Homo sapiens: one gene and its partner. The protein of the gene in region 2 binds, or shares a complex with, the protein of the main gene of each other region. Each region holds a gene or a part of one and is shown on either strand. Other genes may lie near its edges. A codon is read from its position in the direction of its gene.

Region 1 (7,495 bases), on a different chromosome or scaffold from region 2:
CTTCTCCACATGATACGTAAGTTCAAGGTCCAAAGTTCCTATCACAATTTACAAAAAGCCTCCAAAAAACCTTGAAAAGCTTACGCCAGGAGGCCATTTTTACCTGACCCGAAACTATCGAAAAGGCCTCAATTTTCAAGGAGATCTGAGAAAATGGATGGGCCTGAGTTTTTCTAGTTATTTTTAAACCCATCCAACAAACACCCCTGTATCACAACATGGGCGCTGGCTGAGGATGAGTCCGCATCCTTTAAGGCCCAGGAGATTGCCTGCTGACCACCTCCTACATTAGGAAGTCAGAGGCTAAGGTGGACCCACACTCCATTGCAGAGACTGTTGAGTCTCTGAAAAAGTGAGTGTCCAGGAAGAGAGACAAAAAGAAACAAGTAGGTAAAGCTGCTTCTTTTCTTCCACATGCTCACTGCACATTGTTGTTGAGGATGCAGGGATCCACCTAAAGAAAGAAACAGACTATTTCAGTTCAGGTAAGAACAAAAAGAACAAACCAGTTTAGCAATCCGTCTAAGTCAACTTCTTATAGAAAGCTTAGGACAAATTTAACAGTAAAGATGACAATCCTCACCTCAGTATAAGTCGGTGGTGGCATGAACTTGAACTCAGGGGCATACATAAAGATAGGGCTGTCTTGAGAGCCATCCATGTCATCTAGCAGAGGAGTGGTTGGGCTCTCCAATCGGTGATCTTCAGGAATGACATCCATATAGCAGGGAGGAGCTAGAAAAGAAAATATGGCCACATAAGAATCCTGCCCAAGAAATGCTGGACCATCACAATTTTACAAACCCAGGTAGACCAGAAACAAAGAAAAGACATTAGGTCTGGCTCACCTTCTGGGGTATCAGGGATGTTCAGATCTACCCAACTCATCTCAGAGCTGGTTCGGCTGGCCATGCTGGATGTTCTGCTGCTTAGACCTGATCTGCTGCCAATTACCAGGGGCAGGTCAAGGATGACCTTCTTGGATCCAGGAACGCTAACATAGATCTAGAAAGGAAGATGGCAGTTTATTACACCAGAGGTCTGGAGAAACAAGACAGCTGTGGTAACAGATGAACAATTTCTCTGCTGAAGCCACCCTGCATCTACCCACCAGTAAGGAATATTCAACTCGAAGGATGTTGCAGCCCAGGATAGAAGGCCTGATCTTCTGAACCCGAAGGCTCTTGCCACGCCATGATGCGCATGTCCCTGAGATAATATGATTGCCTCTGACTGATGACAACTTCTGAGTCAGCACCTTGGTCTGGCCATTGGCAAGGTAAGTGTGGCGGGCCACAATGGCAGCTTTGGGGACCACAATTCGGGAACATGTATTCTCAAAGTCAGCATGGATGGAAATCTCATCACCTAGCAATGAGAAAGATGAAAACTTACTGATACTCAGTATAGTTAATGACACTTCCTCTACCCCAGTCCCATGCCCTTGCCCCTAAACCCAGTTCCTGTTTTAACTGCCATAAGCACTAGGATTTTACCTTCACAGAATCCTTTTCTGTCAATTCGAGCAGAGACAGACACCCGCCCATCAGGAATGAACATGCAGGAAACTTTCTTTTCTTTTTTAGCAGACACAGGTGCCTATATAGAAGGGGATAAAAAGGTGTTTTGAGATGCTTCAATCTAATGCCCAAGACGTCTGATTTATCATCCTCATGACCCAGGAGAATAGAATCTTTAAAATGGATCTCACCATTAAATCAGGGGTATTGACATCCACCAGATCCACTACTTCAAAGTTTTTCTTTGTCTCTTGAGTTGGCTGGCTCGGGCGGTCAAGAAAAGCCTTCACCCAGTAGTCTACACACCCATATTTTCCTTTGAAGGATGTTCCCAGAGGCCTGTGTCAAGAAAATGAAAATTTTAAAACGCTCTCCAAGAACAGTAAGTGATCAAAGGAGGGCAAGATATTTTAGACAGAAAAGTTCAAAGATGCATTTAGCTGATATTTACCCCTGAGGAAGCTCAAAGCCGAACTTGTACTCATATTTGTTTCCAGGTCTCATGATCACCATCTCATTCTCACCTGAAGGGAAAGAAAATCGAGTAGCCATTAGGCTTGCTGTTACACTTAAAATGCATCTGTGTGATAAGGAATGCTTGGGTGGCATGCAAGGTATTGAAGTACCCCCAATTTCATCCCATATATATATTTTTTAATCCATCCCATATTGTTCTTAAAGAGAAATTCTGATGTATTTTGTCGGGCAGCAAGTTGCCAAGCCCTGCAATACTGAAAGATTCACCCAGGACAGTTCTCTACTAACATCTCAAATAGGAAGTAGACAAAGAATAAGCAACTTATGCACACATAAGACTTTAACTACCCGAGGCAACGCCCCTCAGGATCCCCTTTAGGACACAGCACCATAAAAAATTGTACAAATCACCCTTTTTTTTGGGGGGGGAGGAGAATGTCTGCAAATTAAAACAGAAAAAAGGAAGCAACAACACGTAATTCAAACCACTCAAACTGAGCAACTTAAAACATTTCGTACAGGTTTTGTGTATTCAATTCTCTTCTCTAATCAGCTTTCACCCTCCAACAATGAATTGGGCCGCTTACCTGTTGGCTGGTCTTCCAGAAGAAGCGTGTCTTCATAGCGCAGGTACTCCGAAGTCTGTTTGCACTGCTGGGATCCCTGCATCCAAAGCACTTTAGCCACTCCGCAAGCCAGGATCCTAACGGCTTTGACACGAGTAACTTCACACACCTCCACTATCACCCGGCCAGCCACCTTCTCGCCACTGCCGTACACCTTTTCAGGGTCGTTAAAGACCACCTCAAAAGACTTGATCTTCTTGAACATCACCATGATGGAACTGAGTTGGTTTTAAGAGTTAGAAATGACGGTGGAAGAAAAAAAAAGCTCCAAATCGAGGAAACCCCTTTGCAAAAAATTATTTCACTTTAAGGAATTAAGGTATTCTTAAGCAGTTTGAGCTTAAAAATAAAATAAGATTTAAACAAATGAATATTAACTACTAGGTTTTCGAAAAGGCGCCTAAAAAATATACGCCGCTGGTTACACTAAGCTAATTCAGAGAAAAAGCCTTCTTTCCCCCAATTGCTGGAGAAAAGATCCGATCTCCACAAGCACTCCTTTGGAGAAAAAGAGGGGTTAGTTTCAAGCAGGAGGCGGAAACGTCTCTATATAGTAGCCCGGGCCAGAAGAGCCACGCGAGCGCTGGCCCGGAGGCTCGTGCTGCCCTCGTGCACATCCCTCCCATTGGCTGCCCGGTCCTTGTTTACCAGGAGCCCGACCAATCAGTGAGATCGCTGTGGCGCGTGGACACGGTGTGCTCCTGGCTGGGAAAATGGTTGTTGCGCTCTGGAGCGGCGCAGGGAGGGGGGAAGGAGAGGAAGGAGAGGAAGGAGGGGAAGGAGGGGGCTGTTGAGCGTCTTCTCCCGGGTCCAGTGGAAGGAGGATCCCACTGACCCTAAAACCTAGCCAGGGCGACAGGCCATCGGAGGGCGGGTGTGGACGTTTCTGGTCTGAGAGCGGTGTTTTGAGGTAAAAGGAAAATGTGCTTATGAGGGAATTTCATGCCTAGTCTTAGCCAGTGCAGTTACTTTAGAGCCTGTCGTTATTCCTGGCTCATAAATAGCAAGTGTGTGAAAATCCCATAGCTCCAAGAATACTTTCAGGTTTGGGGCTGTGGAGCGCAGAATGCTTGGTGTTACTGTTCAGGAACAGCCCTTTGTCCTTCTCTTGCCCCGCATCCCTATTAAGTATAAAAAACACCACCGTCTCTGAGGGAAAGGAGAACTTTCAGGCCTCATTGTGTGTGTAGGACCGATGTCTTCTCCTTCCCGTTCCAATCCCTTGGGGCTAGGGCTGGGGGCTGCGTGCCTGTGCTGTTCGTCACCCACCCCCAGCTTGTACCCTCTCTTCTGTTCTCTCTGTTCTGTGGAACGGAAATAGGAGGGGCGTGTTTACATCCTGTTGCTTATCCTGTCATCTCTTCAATTTCTACCTGCAAAGTTGGGGAACACTTTGTCTGTGTTCCCCATTTACCTCATTACCTCTTTAGTGAGGTGTGTCCAGGCGCTCATTATCTCCCACTTCCTACCTGCTTCTGGAGGAAAAGGAAAAGCGGGAAAAAAAGGATGCTTCACTCTTTTCACTTTTTTCCAGTTATGTTCACTCTTTCTTGTCTCCATCCCCTCTTCCAACTCACTAAATCAAATGTACATCCATAAATCTGGTTAAAAGTGAGAAAGTCCTCTTGTTTATATCCAAATTTTCAGTGGAGAGATGGCCACACACCTGTTTGAAGGAACAATTTTAAAAACTATTTTCAAAGGTTTTTCCCTAAACGGTTTAGAAAACAGTAAGAAGGAAAAGAGAAGAAAGATCGGTCAACAGAGCACTATAAATTCAAGCCAGAAGAGACCCTACCCTCTCTCTTCATTCTTTGTTGGTTTCGTTTGGCCAGCTGTCAGATGGATTTTCCCCTGCTGGCTGTGAGATGCTTTAGGAGCTGAGTACTGAGAACTTACTCTTAAATGTAATAGGAAAAACCTGTATGCAAAAGTGCAGGGATTCTTCCTCCTTTTATTTGATTCATAGACCCTTCCTATATCTGTGCTGGGGTATCAGAAGATTATTATTTAATTCCTTGTGCTGGAAAGAGGAAGATAATGTCCCAAGATTGAGATGGGGAGGTAATTAAGAAGCATTCAAGTATATTGAAACCCTACCCAATCAGCAAAAAAAAAACAATATTCATTGCTGTTAAAGAGCCTTCTTCCTTCCTCAGACAGCCTAGCTGGATTGACACTCTAAGGCTAACGAGAGTTACAACTCAACCCCAATATTAAGCAAGCTCAAGAATAGGCATCATGAGTCTCTTCGAAAACACACACATGCATTAAACCCCAGGAACATGTTGATCCTTAGGGTGTGTTTGAGGCGGCACCCTGTTCTAGAAACTTAACCAGCTAGGCTTGAGGTGTTTTCAGTTGGTTAACAATATTGATTGAGTTACTGGGAGCAGAGGAGGTGGAACTCTGACTGAAGTAATTTTTTTTTTAAGGTGGAATCTTGCTCTGTTGCCTAGGCTGGAGTGCAGTGGCCTGACCCCAGCTCACTGCAACCTCTGCCTCCTGGGTTAGAGCGATTCTCCGCCTCAGCCTCCTGAGTACCTGGCATTACAGGCATGCATCACCACGCCCAGCTAATTTTTGTATTTTTAGTAGAGATGGGGTTTCACCATGTTGCCCAAGATGGTCTTGAACTCCTCCTGACCTCAGGTGATCCACCCGCCTTGGCCTCCCAAAGTGCTGGGATTACAGGCGTGAGCCACCGTGCCTGGCCTGACTGAAGTAATTTTAAAAGTTCAAAATTGTGGCTTCTGGGAGAACGTTTAGTTTGATGGGTATGAAAGTGTAACTATCAAACATCAAAATGCTGACAAATATATGAATCAATATTGTTAACTACATAGTCAATATTGTTAAATATTGTTAAATCTTAACTACATACATTTTGAGGGAATAGGAAAGATGGTGGCTAGTGATGGATCAGGGTGGTGGTAATATGGGACATCTTAAGACATCCAACTCTCAACCAGGTTGGAATGCAGTGTCACTTGGCTCACTGAAACCTCCACATCCCAGGCTCAAGTGATTCTCCCACCTCAGCCTCCCGAGTAGCCGGGACTACAGATGTGCTCCACCACGCCTAGGTAATTTTTGTATTTTTGGTAGAGATGGGGTTTCACCATGTTGGCCAGGCTGGTCTCAAACTCCTGCTCAAGCAGTCCGCCTACCTGGCCTCCCAAAGTGCTGGGATTATAGGCACCCTTTTCCCTTTCAATTTATTTGATATTTATGTGGGCACATCTCTGAAGTACTGAATTGCTGAGTTTTAAAAAATCCTATGACAATTCTCTCGTTCTAAGTTTCTCTTCTGGGCTCTGGTTTCCTTGTATCTTCCCATTTGCAGAGCTCACTACAGACTACGTTGCTCTGTGTTATGCCTGGGTTCCTTTAAATGCCAAAAAATTATTTAGCTTTGGCAGCAGCTGCTGCCTACCAGGCCTGTAGCCAAGGCATGTTCTGAAGTGGAGTCCTCCTGGACACGGTTGTTTACGACCTTTCACCTTGTAACCTGGTATTCTGATAAAAACCTGCCCCGATTCTCCTTTCCCAGTTCTTGGGTCTAAGAAGAAAGAAATTTTGTAAACTCTTGTCCTAAAATCAGGGTATAAAAACACTTGTGAGGTTTGGGAAAAGGGGTGGGCCAAGGAGGAACAGCAAAGTAGGGCACAGTCAAAGAGTTTTGCAAGTTGGATCATCTTTATCTGCCCCTTCTCTACCCTCTTCAGTCCCAGTGCCAACAGGAAACCAAGTGGTGATTGTTGTTTGTTTGCTTTACTGCAGGTGACAGAATAAAGCCAGCAGTTTCAGGGAGGGAAGTGCCCTCAGCACTTTGTTGCCAGTCAGAGACAAGACACTGATTGCATTTCTCTTTTCTTTAACCTCTGGCCTGACAAACATTTAGAACATGAAGACTCATAGTTCTTAATGCAGAACAAAGCCCTTTCTTGGTCCTTTTAATCACTTCTCTCACCTCTACTCTGTAAACTTCCCTTTTACCCTTACCCATTTTCCTTTCTCTCTCTCTTTTTTTTTCCACATAGGGTCTCACTCTCAACCAGGTTGGAATGCAGTGTCACTTGGCTCACTGAAACCTCCGCATCCCAGGCTCAAGTGATTCTCCCACCTCAGCCTCCCGAGTAGCTGGGACTACAGATGTGCTCCACCACGCCTAGGTAATTTTTGTATTTTTGGTAGAGATGGGGTTTCACCATGTTGGCCAGGCTGGTCTCAAACTCCTGCTCAAGCAGTCCGCCTACCTCGGCCTCCCAAAGTGCTGGGATTATAGGCACCCTTTTCCCTTTCAATTTTTTCCCTAAGGAATTTAGAGGCAAATTAAGAGTTTGAAGACTGCCCCAAGTCATAGATCAATAAGAATAAATTAACAATTGTAAGCCAGGTGTGGTGGCTCATGCCTGTAATCCCAGCACTTTGGGAGGCTGAAATGGGAAGATCACTTGAGGCCAGGAATTCAAGAAGATCACCCTGGGCATTGTAGTGAGACCCCATCTCTCTTTAAAAAAAAAAAAAAAGGCTGGGCGCGGTGGCTCACGCCTGTAATCCCAGCACTTTGGGAGGCTGAGGCAGGCAAATCACGAGGTCAGGAGATTGAGACCATCCTGGCTAACACAGTGAAACCCCGTCTCTACTAAAAATACAAAAAATTAGCCGGGTGTGGTGGCAGGCGCCTATAGTCCCAGCTACTCGGGAGGCTGAGGCAGGAGAATGGCGTGAACCTGGGAGGTGGAGCTTGCAGTGAGCCGAGATCTCGCCACTGCACTCCAGCCTGGGCGACAAAGTGAGACTCCATCTCAAAAAAAAAAAAAGAATTGTATAGCATGTTAGAGTTCCAAGTGACTTTTTAAGTAATTG
Region 2 (7,984 bases):
GCTCTGGAGGTCCTGTCACTGCACTCCATCCTGCGTGACTGGGTGAGACCCAGTCTCAACAACAAAAAATCACTTTTCATATACTTGCTTCCTTTAACCTTTCTGACCTTGCGTTTCAAAATGCTCTCCTTCCCCATTCCACTCCACACTCCCTGAACCCTTTTTGTTCCATAATCCTCTGAATTTACACACAGCATTAAGGCATTCACTCAGCCTACCCTGTCCTTCTCTTTCCCCGCCCTTTTCACACTCCTACTCTTCATGTAAGACCCAATGTGGGTTCAGGGGCAAATCTTGCCTCTTCTAACCAATCCTCCACCCAGCCACACACACAGAATTGGCCACTTCCTCTTTCGTCTCAAAGCTTTTTGACCTTTCCTTGGTAAGTCTACAGTACCATTTGCCCTCAGTGGTTCCCAAGACCATCAGAATTACCTAAGGCATGTGTTAAAAATAAATTGGTTGAAGCCAACCCAGACCTACTAAATCCATCTCAGAAGGTAAGACCCTGGAATTTCTAAGCTCTCCTAATTATTCTAATGGTCAAATTTGGGGACTACTGGTTTGTCTGCCTCTCCCAATAAGTGAAAAGATGTATTTTTTAGGGCCAGGAGTGGCGGCTCATGCCTGTAAACCCAGCACTTTGGGAGGCCAAGGCAGGTGGATCACGAGGTCAGGAGTTCGAGAGCAGCCTAGCCAATATGGTGAAAACCCATCTCTACTAAAAAATACAAAAAAATTACCGGGAGTGGTGGCACGCGCCTGTAGTCCCAGCTACTACGGAGGCTGAGGCAGAAGAATTGCTGGAACCCGGGAGGCGGAGGTTACAGTAAGCCGAGATCACACCACTGTACTCCAGCCTGGGTGACAAAGTTAGATTCCGTCTCAAACAAACGAAAAAGATGTATTTTTTTCTAAAGAATGTAGAAATGTTTGATTCTAGAATACACTGAAGAAGTAGTCTGTACTCATTTTTTTAATTTCATATGATATCCTTGGTGACTTGACCTGTATGCTGAATGTAATGGAATTCCTTTTGGACTCACAAAACTTAAATTCACAGTTCAAAGAAGCAGTAGAATTTCCACCTTCATTTCTAAATTTTTTTTTTTATTTTTTGAGACAGGGTCTCACTCTGTCACCCAGGCTGGAATGCAGTGGCAACGGTAACAGCTCACCGCAGCCTCGACCCCCCGGAATCAGGTGATTCCCCCACCTCAGCCTCCTGAGTATCTGGGACCACAGGCGCCTGCCACCACACCCGGCAAATCTTTGTATTTTTTGTAGAGACGGGGTTTCACGATGTTGCCCAGGCTGATCTCCAATTCCTGGGCTCACGTAATCCGCCCACCTCGGCCTCCCAAATTGCTGGGATTACAGGCGTGAGCCACCACACCCATCCCATTGCTTTTTTTTTTTTTTTTTTTTTGAGGCGGAGTCTCGCTCTGTCGCCCAGGCTGGAGTGCAGCAGCGAGATCTCGGCTCACTGCAGCCTCCACCTCCCGGGTTCAAGCCATTCTCCTGCCTCAGCCTCCCTAGTAGCTGGGACTACAGGCGCGCGCCACCACGCCCAGGATTTTTTTTTTTTTTTTTTTGTATTTTTAGTAGAGACGGGGTTTCACCATGTTGGTCAGGATGGTCTCGAACTCCTGACCTCATGATCTGCCCGCCTCGGCCTCCCAAAGTGCTAGGATTACAGGCGTGAGCCACACACAGCACCCGGCCCATTTCTTAATTTTAAAAATAAATCGTAGCTTAAATAAACCTGTAAATACACATAGCAAGCTCTCAGCAGATCTGCCATGAGAACTTCACCTCAACTGATAAACCATTCCTTAGCCGATTTTGAGAATGGAAATACACTGCCTTTACATACTTCCTGAAGATCGAATTCTATCAGGAAAAGATGCAGGAGAACCCACCTAAGTGGGTGGCTGGCTCCAGGGTCTTACTAATTTTCAAGGCAAAAATCCCACAATTCCCCATCCCCCACTCCAAACCAAGTATACTGTAGCTGTGGAAGAATGGCAGAAAATGTAATAAGATTAGGATACGAATACAACCAAGAAAACAAGGTTGCGTTGTTATTGGGGATAATGAATTCCTGGCCCTTTACAAGTTCACCTGGTTACATGTCCAACTAACTTTAGGCCCAGCGTCTACTTCGGGCGCACAAATTCTGCGATTCTCTTTTCTGTCGCGGACGGGAACTGTCTTGGAAAACTTGAGTTCTCCACTTAAAAGTCATGTCATCATGCTTCGACCCTTAGAATACGTTCAACGGCTACTTTTTTCTTTTCTCTGCTAAAGAAAAGGGCACTCTCCGGAGGAAGGGCAGTGACAGCTCCACGTCTGCAAAAGTCGGCGCCGCCACGACGGTGGCGGACGTCGGGGAGGGCGCCGGAGCCGGGACCACCACGCCGGGGGGACAATGGAAGGAGGAGGCGAGTGGGAGAGAGAAGGGGAGGCAGCCGCTGTGCTGGGCCCTTCTAGCGACTGGGGGCTCGGAAAAGTCTCGAGAAGGCCAGCTGGGTGGCGGGGGACCCGGCCGCCGCCCCTCACAGGGCCACGTCGCCCGCGCCGGCCCCGCCGCCGGGCCCCGCGCGTAGGCCGAACCGCTGGAGAGTGGCCCCAGGCGGGGCTGAGGGGCGAGGGGCCGGACGGTACCCACGCCCGTCGTGGCCCAGCCCTTTCACAACTTGGAGCCCGCGAGGCGAAGGCCTCCGGAAGCCTGTGCCAGACACTGATCCCTCCGAACGTCCAGACAGCCCACCCCCACCGCCCGGCCCGGGCCAGTAGCCCGAGCTCCCCGCGCCCCCGACAGACACCGGCTCTGGAAGAAGGAGCAGCCGCGGCTCTGGGGTCCCGAACCGCGCGTCCCACTCCTCTACCCTTGTTCTCCCCGAACATTCTCATCCGGACTCCCTCCCTCTCCCGAGAACTGCCCCGAGTTCGCCCACGGGGGTTTACCGGGACTCGGGGCGGCGGCGACTCCTCAGTCCCTAGACTAAGATGGCAGCCGGTCCCGAGCCCCGACCACAGCTACTAGAGCGAGTTAGCAGCTAAAGCGCAGGCGCCTGAGCGCGGAAGTGGTCTAGACTACAAGCCCCAGCAGGCCTTGCGCGCCAGCCGTCCGGCCCGCCCCTGGCTTGAAGAGCTGGCTGCGGTGGTAAATCAGTTAAATCCCAGTTTTCCTCAGCTCCAGGTGAGATGGGCGCGAGCGGCTCCCAGCACCTCCAGGCTTTTTTTTTTTTTTAACACCCCGCCCACCAGAGCCTATAAGGACTGTGATTCTCAAACTATGGTGTGCATCAGAATCACCTAGAGAGCTTATTAAAACTTACACTGCTGACCCCCACCCCCAGAGTTTCTGATCAGAAGATCTGGCATAGGAGGATAGGGTCTGATAATTTGCATGTCCAACAAGCTGTCTAGTGATACTGCTAGTGAGTGAAATCATAATTTGAGAACCAATGGGCTATATAGCTTAGTTTATAACTTAGTTGTTCTTTTTTCTTTTTCTTTTCCTTTTCTTTTTTTTTCTTCTTTTTGAGATAAGGTCTCACCCTTCACCCAGGCTGGAGTGCAGTGGTGCAGTCATAGCTCACTACAGCCTCACACTCCTGGGCTCAAGCGAGCCTCCCACCTGGGCTTCCTGAGTAGCTGGGACAGCAGTTGAGCACCACCACACCCGACTAATTTTGTTCTATTCTTTGTAGAGATGGGGATGGGGTGGAGTGCGGATGGGATGGGGCGGGAATAGGGCCACGGTGTCGCCATGTTGCCCAGGCTGGTCTCCAGCTCCTGGGCTCAAGCGATACTCCCTCCTCGGGCCTCCCAATCGCTGAGATTACAGATGTGAGCCACTGCACCTGGCCTGGCTTAGCCTTTAACAATGTACATTAAAGGGCGTGGTTAAAAAGAAAATAAAAGAAAAAAAATGTACACTTGAGAGTTACACTGACCGGATTCAAATCCTCCCTTTTCTACCTTTTAACTGGGTGCCCTTAGGGATGATGACAACAGCTTAGTGGAGCCAACGTGGCCTGTCCGGTATTCTAAGAGCTGATACCAAGCTCCCTTTATTCTCACAACAAACCTATTACAGAAATACCATTATTATCCCCATTTTACAAATATATAAACTAAGTCACATACTTGATAAGAACCCAGGCAGTCTGGCGTGAAAGTCCGTTGTCTTAACCTTCTTCATGGATTGCTTGTGAGAAATAATAGGCTATGCAGGCAGAGACTCAGAGGTATGACTAAGTGCTCAATACTTAGTGACCTTTGCTATTACTGTTTAGCCTGTTTCCTCCTAATGAAAATAGTATTTTGCCATCTGGAAAGTCACATTTTTCAAAGTGACTTTTTTTTTTTTTTTTTTTTTGAGACAGAGTCTTGCTCTGTCACCCAACCTGGAGTGCAGCGGTGCAATCATAGCTCACTGCAGCCAACCTCCTGGGCTCAAGTGATCCTCTCACCTCAGCTTCCTGAGTAGCTGGGACTCCAGGCTCAAGCCACCACACTATCCTAATTGTTTTTATTTTTGTAGAGACGTGGACTCCCTGTGTTGCCCAGGCTGTTCTCAGACTCCTAGGCTTGGCTAGGGTCAGTGGCTTACACCTGTAATCCCAGGAGTTAGGGAGGCCAAGGCAGGCAAATCACTTGAGGTCAGGAGTTTGAGACCAGTCTGGCCAACATGGTGAAACCCCGTCTCTTTTTTTTTTTTTTTTTTTTTTTGAGACAGAGTATTGCTCTGTCGCCCAGGCTGGAGTGCAGTGGCGCAATCTTGGCTCACTGCAACCTCCGCTCGCCTCCTGGGTTCAAGTGATTCTCCTGTCTCAGCCTCCTAAGTAGCTGGGACTACAAGCGCATGCCATCACGCCTGGCTAATTTTTGTATTTTTAGTAGAGTTGGGTGAGCCACCACGCCTAGCCTTGTGAAACCCCTTCCCTACTAAAAACACAAAAATTAGCCAGGTGTGGTGGCGGGTGCCTGTAATCCCAGCTACTTGGGAGGCTGAAGCACGATAATTGATTGAACCCAGGAGGGGGAGGTTGCAGTGACCCAAGATCACGCCATTGCACTCCAGCCTGGGCGACTCAGCGAGACTCTGTCTCAAAAAACAAACAACAAAAGAAACATAAAGGCTGGGCGCAGTAGCTCACTCCTATAATCCCAGCACTTCGGGAGGCTGAGGCGGGTGGATCACCTGAGGTCAGGAGTTTGAGACCAGCCTGGCCAACATGGTGAAATCTTGTCTCTACTAAAAATGCAAAAATTTGTTGGGCATGGTTTGGGAGGCCGAGGCGGATGGATCAACTGAGGTCAGGAGTTCAAGACCAGCCTGGCTAACATGGTGAAACCCCATCTCTACTAAAAATGCAAAAATTAGACCGGGCACGGTGGCTCACGCCTATAATCCCAGCACTTTGGGAGGCCAAGGCGGGCGGATCACGAGATCAGGAGTTCAAGACCAGCCTGGCTATCATGGTGAAACCCTATCTCTACTAAAAATACAAAAATTAGCCGGGCGTGGTGGCGGGTGCCTGTAATCCCAGCTAGTCAGGAGGCTGAGGCAGAGAATTGCTTGGACCTGGGAGGCGGAGGTTGCAGTGAGCCAAGATCGTGCTACTGCACTCCATCCTGGGCCACAGAGCGAGAATCTGTCTCAAAAAAAAAAATGCAAAAATTAGTTGGGCATGGCACACCCCTGTAATCTCAGCTACTCGGGAGGCTGGGGTGGGAGAATTGCTTGAACTCAGGAGACGGAGACTGCAGTGAGCCAAGATCACGCCACTGCACTCCATCCTGAGTGACAGAGTGAAACCCCATCTAAAAAAAATAAAAAATCAAACTCCTAGGTTCAAGCCTTCAAGCCTCAAGCAAAGTACTTTCAAAACCACTTCATGTTTCCTGCAACATGCCTTAGGAAAGATTGCTAAAATACAGATTCCTGCGCCCCATCCTCATTCAGTTTCTCTAGTGCAGTGGTTTTCAAACCTCAGTACTTATCAGAATTGCCTGCAAAGTTAGTTAAACTGTAGGTTGCTGAGGCCACTCCTAGAGTTTCTGATTCAGTAGGTCTGGGGCAGGGCCTGAGAATTTGCTTTTTTTTTTTTTGGAGACTGAGTCTCACTCTGTCGCCCAGGCTTGAGTGCAGTGGCCCAACCTCCGCTCACTGCAACCTCTGCCTCCCGGGTTCAAGCGATTCTCCCGCCTCAGCCTCCCGAGCAGCTGGGATTACAGGTGCATGCCACCACGACTGACTAATTTTTGTATTTTTGTAGAGATGGGGTTTCACCATATTGGCCAGGCTGGTCTTGAACTCTTGAGCTTGTGATCTGCCCGCCTTAGCCTCCCAAAGTGCTGGGATTATAGGCGTGAGCCACCGCACCCGGCCAGTACAAGGTATTTTTATGACCATTATACAGAGAAGAAAACTGAGTGTGACAGAAATTAAATGGCTTGTTGAAGATCACTCAGCCAGGAACCAGGGATCTAACCCTAAGTCCTGTAGCTCCAGATTCTGTATTCACCTACAATTTTAAAAACTATGTAAGGTTAGGCAAAACTAGTCTATGGTGTTAGAAGTCAGGATACTGGTTACTCTTTGAGGGGAGGGTGTACCTGGAAGAAGGCACAAAGACACCTCTCAGGATAGGTAATAATGTTCTGTGCCCTGATCTGGGTGGTGTTACTGTTTCAGGAAAAGGGTCCTGATTCAGACCCCAAGAGAGGGTTCTTGGATCTCGTGCAGGAAAGAATTTGGGGCAAGTCCATACAATAAAGTGAAAACAAGTTATTTATTTATTATTCTTTTTCAGACAGAGTTTTGCTCTTGTCACCCTGGCTGGAGTGCAGTGGGGCAATCTCAGCTCACTGTAACCTCCGCCTCCTGGGTTCAAGTGATTCTCCTGCCTCATCCTCCTGAGTAACTGGGATTACAGGCGCACACCACCACACCCAGCTAATTTTTGTATTTTTAGCAGAGGTGGAGTTTCACCATGTTGGCTAGGCTGATCTTGAACTCCTGACCTCAGGTGATCCACCTGCCTCGGCCTCCCAAAGTGCTGGGATTACAGGCATGAGCCACGGCACCCAGCCGATAATGAGTTTATTAAGAAAGTAAAGGGGCCGGGCGTGGTGGCTAACGCTTGTAATCCCAGCACTTTGGGAGGCTGAGGGGGGTGGATCACGAGGTCAGGAGTTCAAGACCAGCCTGGCCAACATAGTGAAACCCCACCTCTACTAAAAATACAAAAATTAGCTGGGCGTGGTGACGTGCGCCTATAATACCAGCTACTCCAGAGGCTGAGGCAGGAGAATTGCTTGAACCAGGACCCAGGAGGCAAGGTGGAGGCTGCAGTGAGCCGACATCGTACCACTGCACTCCAGCCTGGGCAACAGAGCAAGACTCCATCTCAAAAAAAAAGAAAAAGAAAAAAGAAAGTAAAGGAGGCCGAGCGTGGTGGCTCACACCTGTAATCACACCACTTTGGGAGGCTGAGGCGGGTGGATCACTGGAAGTCAGGTGTTTGAGACCATCCTGGCCAACATGGTGAAACCCCATCTCTACTAAAAATACAAAAAAAGTTAGGCAGGCATGGTGACGCACGTCTGTAATCCCAGCTACTCAGGAGGCTGATGCAGGAGTATCGCTTGAACCCAGGAGGTAGAGGTTGCAGTGAGCGGAGATCCTGCCACTGCATTCCTGCCTGGGAGACAGAGCAAGACTCCCTCTAAAAAAAAAAAAAGAAAGTAAAGGAATAAAAGAATGGCTACCCCATAGTCAGAGCAATGGCTCGAGATGCTGGTCTAAGGATAGAGTTATTTCTTGATTATATGCTAAACAAGGGGTGGATTATTTATGAGTTTTCCAGGAAAGGGGTGGCCAATTCCCAGAGCTGAGGGTTACTCCCCTTTTTAGACCTTATAGGGTAACTTCTGGATGTTGCCGTGGCATCTGTAAACTGTCATG

The links.
Region 1: the proteins of ITCH (region 2) and TXNIP are in contact, whole or in part, in a crystal structure (PDB 5CQ2), measured with the Homo sapiens proteins. Residues at the interface, in NP_001244066.1 of Homo sapiens: Glu485, Arg487, Thr489, Tyr495, Val497, Asp498, His499, Arg502, Thr503, Thr504, Thr505, Tyr506, Leu516; in NP_006463.3 of Homo sapiens: Pro328 (codon at 855), Glu329 (codon at 852), Ala330 (codon at 849), Pro331 (codon at 733), Pro332 (codon at 730), Cys333 (codon at 727), Tyr334 (codon at 724), Val337 (codon at 715), Ile338 (codon at 712).

What each region holds. Positions count from the first base shown.
Region 1 is NC_000001.11:145,993,433-146,000,927, forward strand, and holds the start of TXNIP (thioredoxin-interacting protein), read right to left. Parts: upstream 3,148-7,495; 5' UTR 2,835-3,147; coding exon 2,585-2,834; intron 2,313-2,584; exon of another isoform or gene 2,130-2,312; coding exon of another isoform or gene 2,045-2,129; coding exon 1,972-2,044; intron 1,860-1,971; coding exon 1,712-1,859; intron 1,600-1,711; coding exon 1,497-1,599; intron 1,369-1,496; coding exon 1,112-1,368; intron 1,006-1,111; coding exon 849-1,005; intron 736-848; coding exon 584-735; intron 455-583; coding exon 419-454; 3' UTR 1-418. UniProt on the Homo sapiens protein: May act as an oxidative stress mediator by inhibiting thioredoxin activity or by limiting its bioavailability.
Region 2 is NC_000020.11:34,358,336-34,366,319, reverse strand, and holds the start of ITCH (E3 ubiquitin-protein ligase Itchy homolog), read right to left. Parts: upstream 3,048-7,984; 5' UTR 2,971-3,047; intron 1-2,970. UniProt on the Homo sapiens protein: Acts as an Acts as an E3 ubiquitin-protein ligase which accepts ubiquitin from an E2 ubiquitin-conjugating enzyme in the form of a thioester and then directly transfers the ubiquitin to targeted substrates.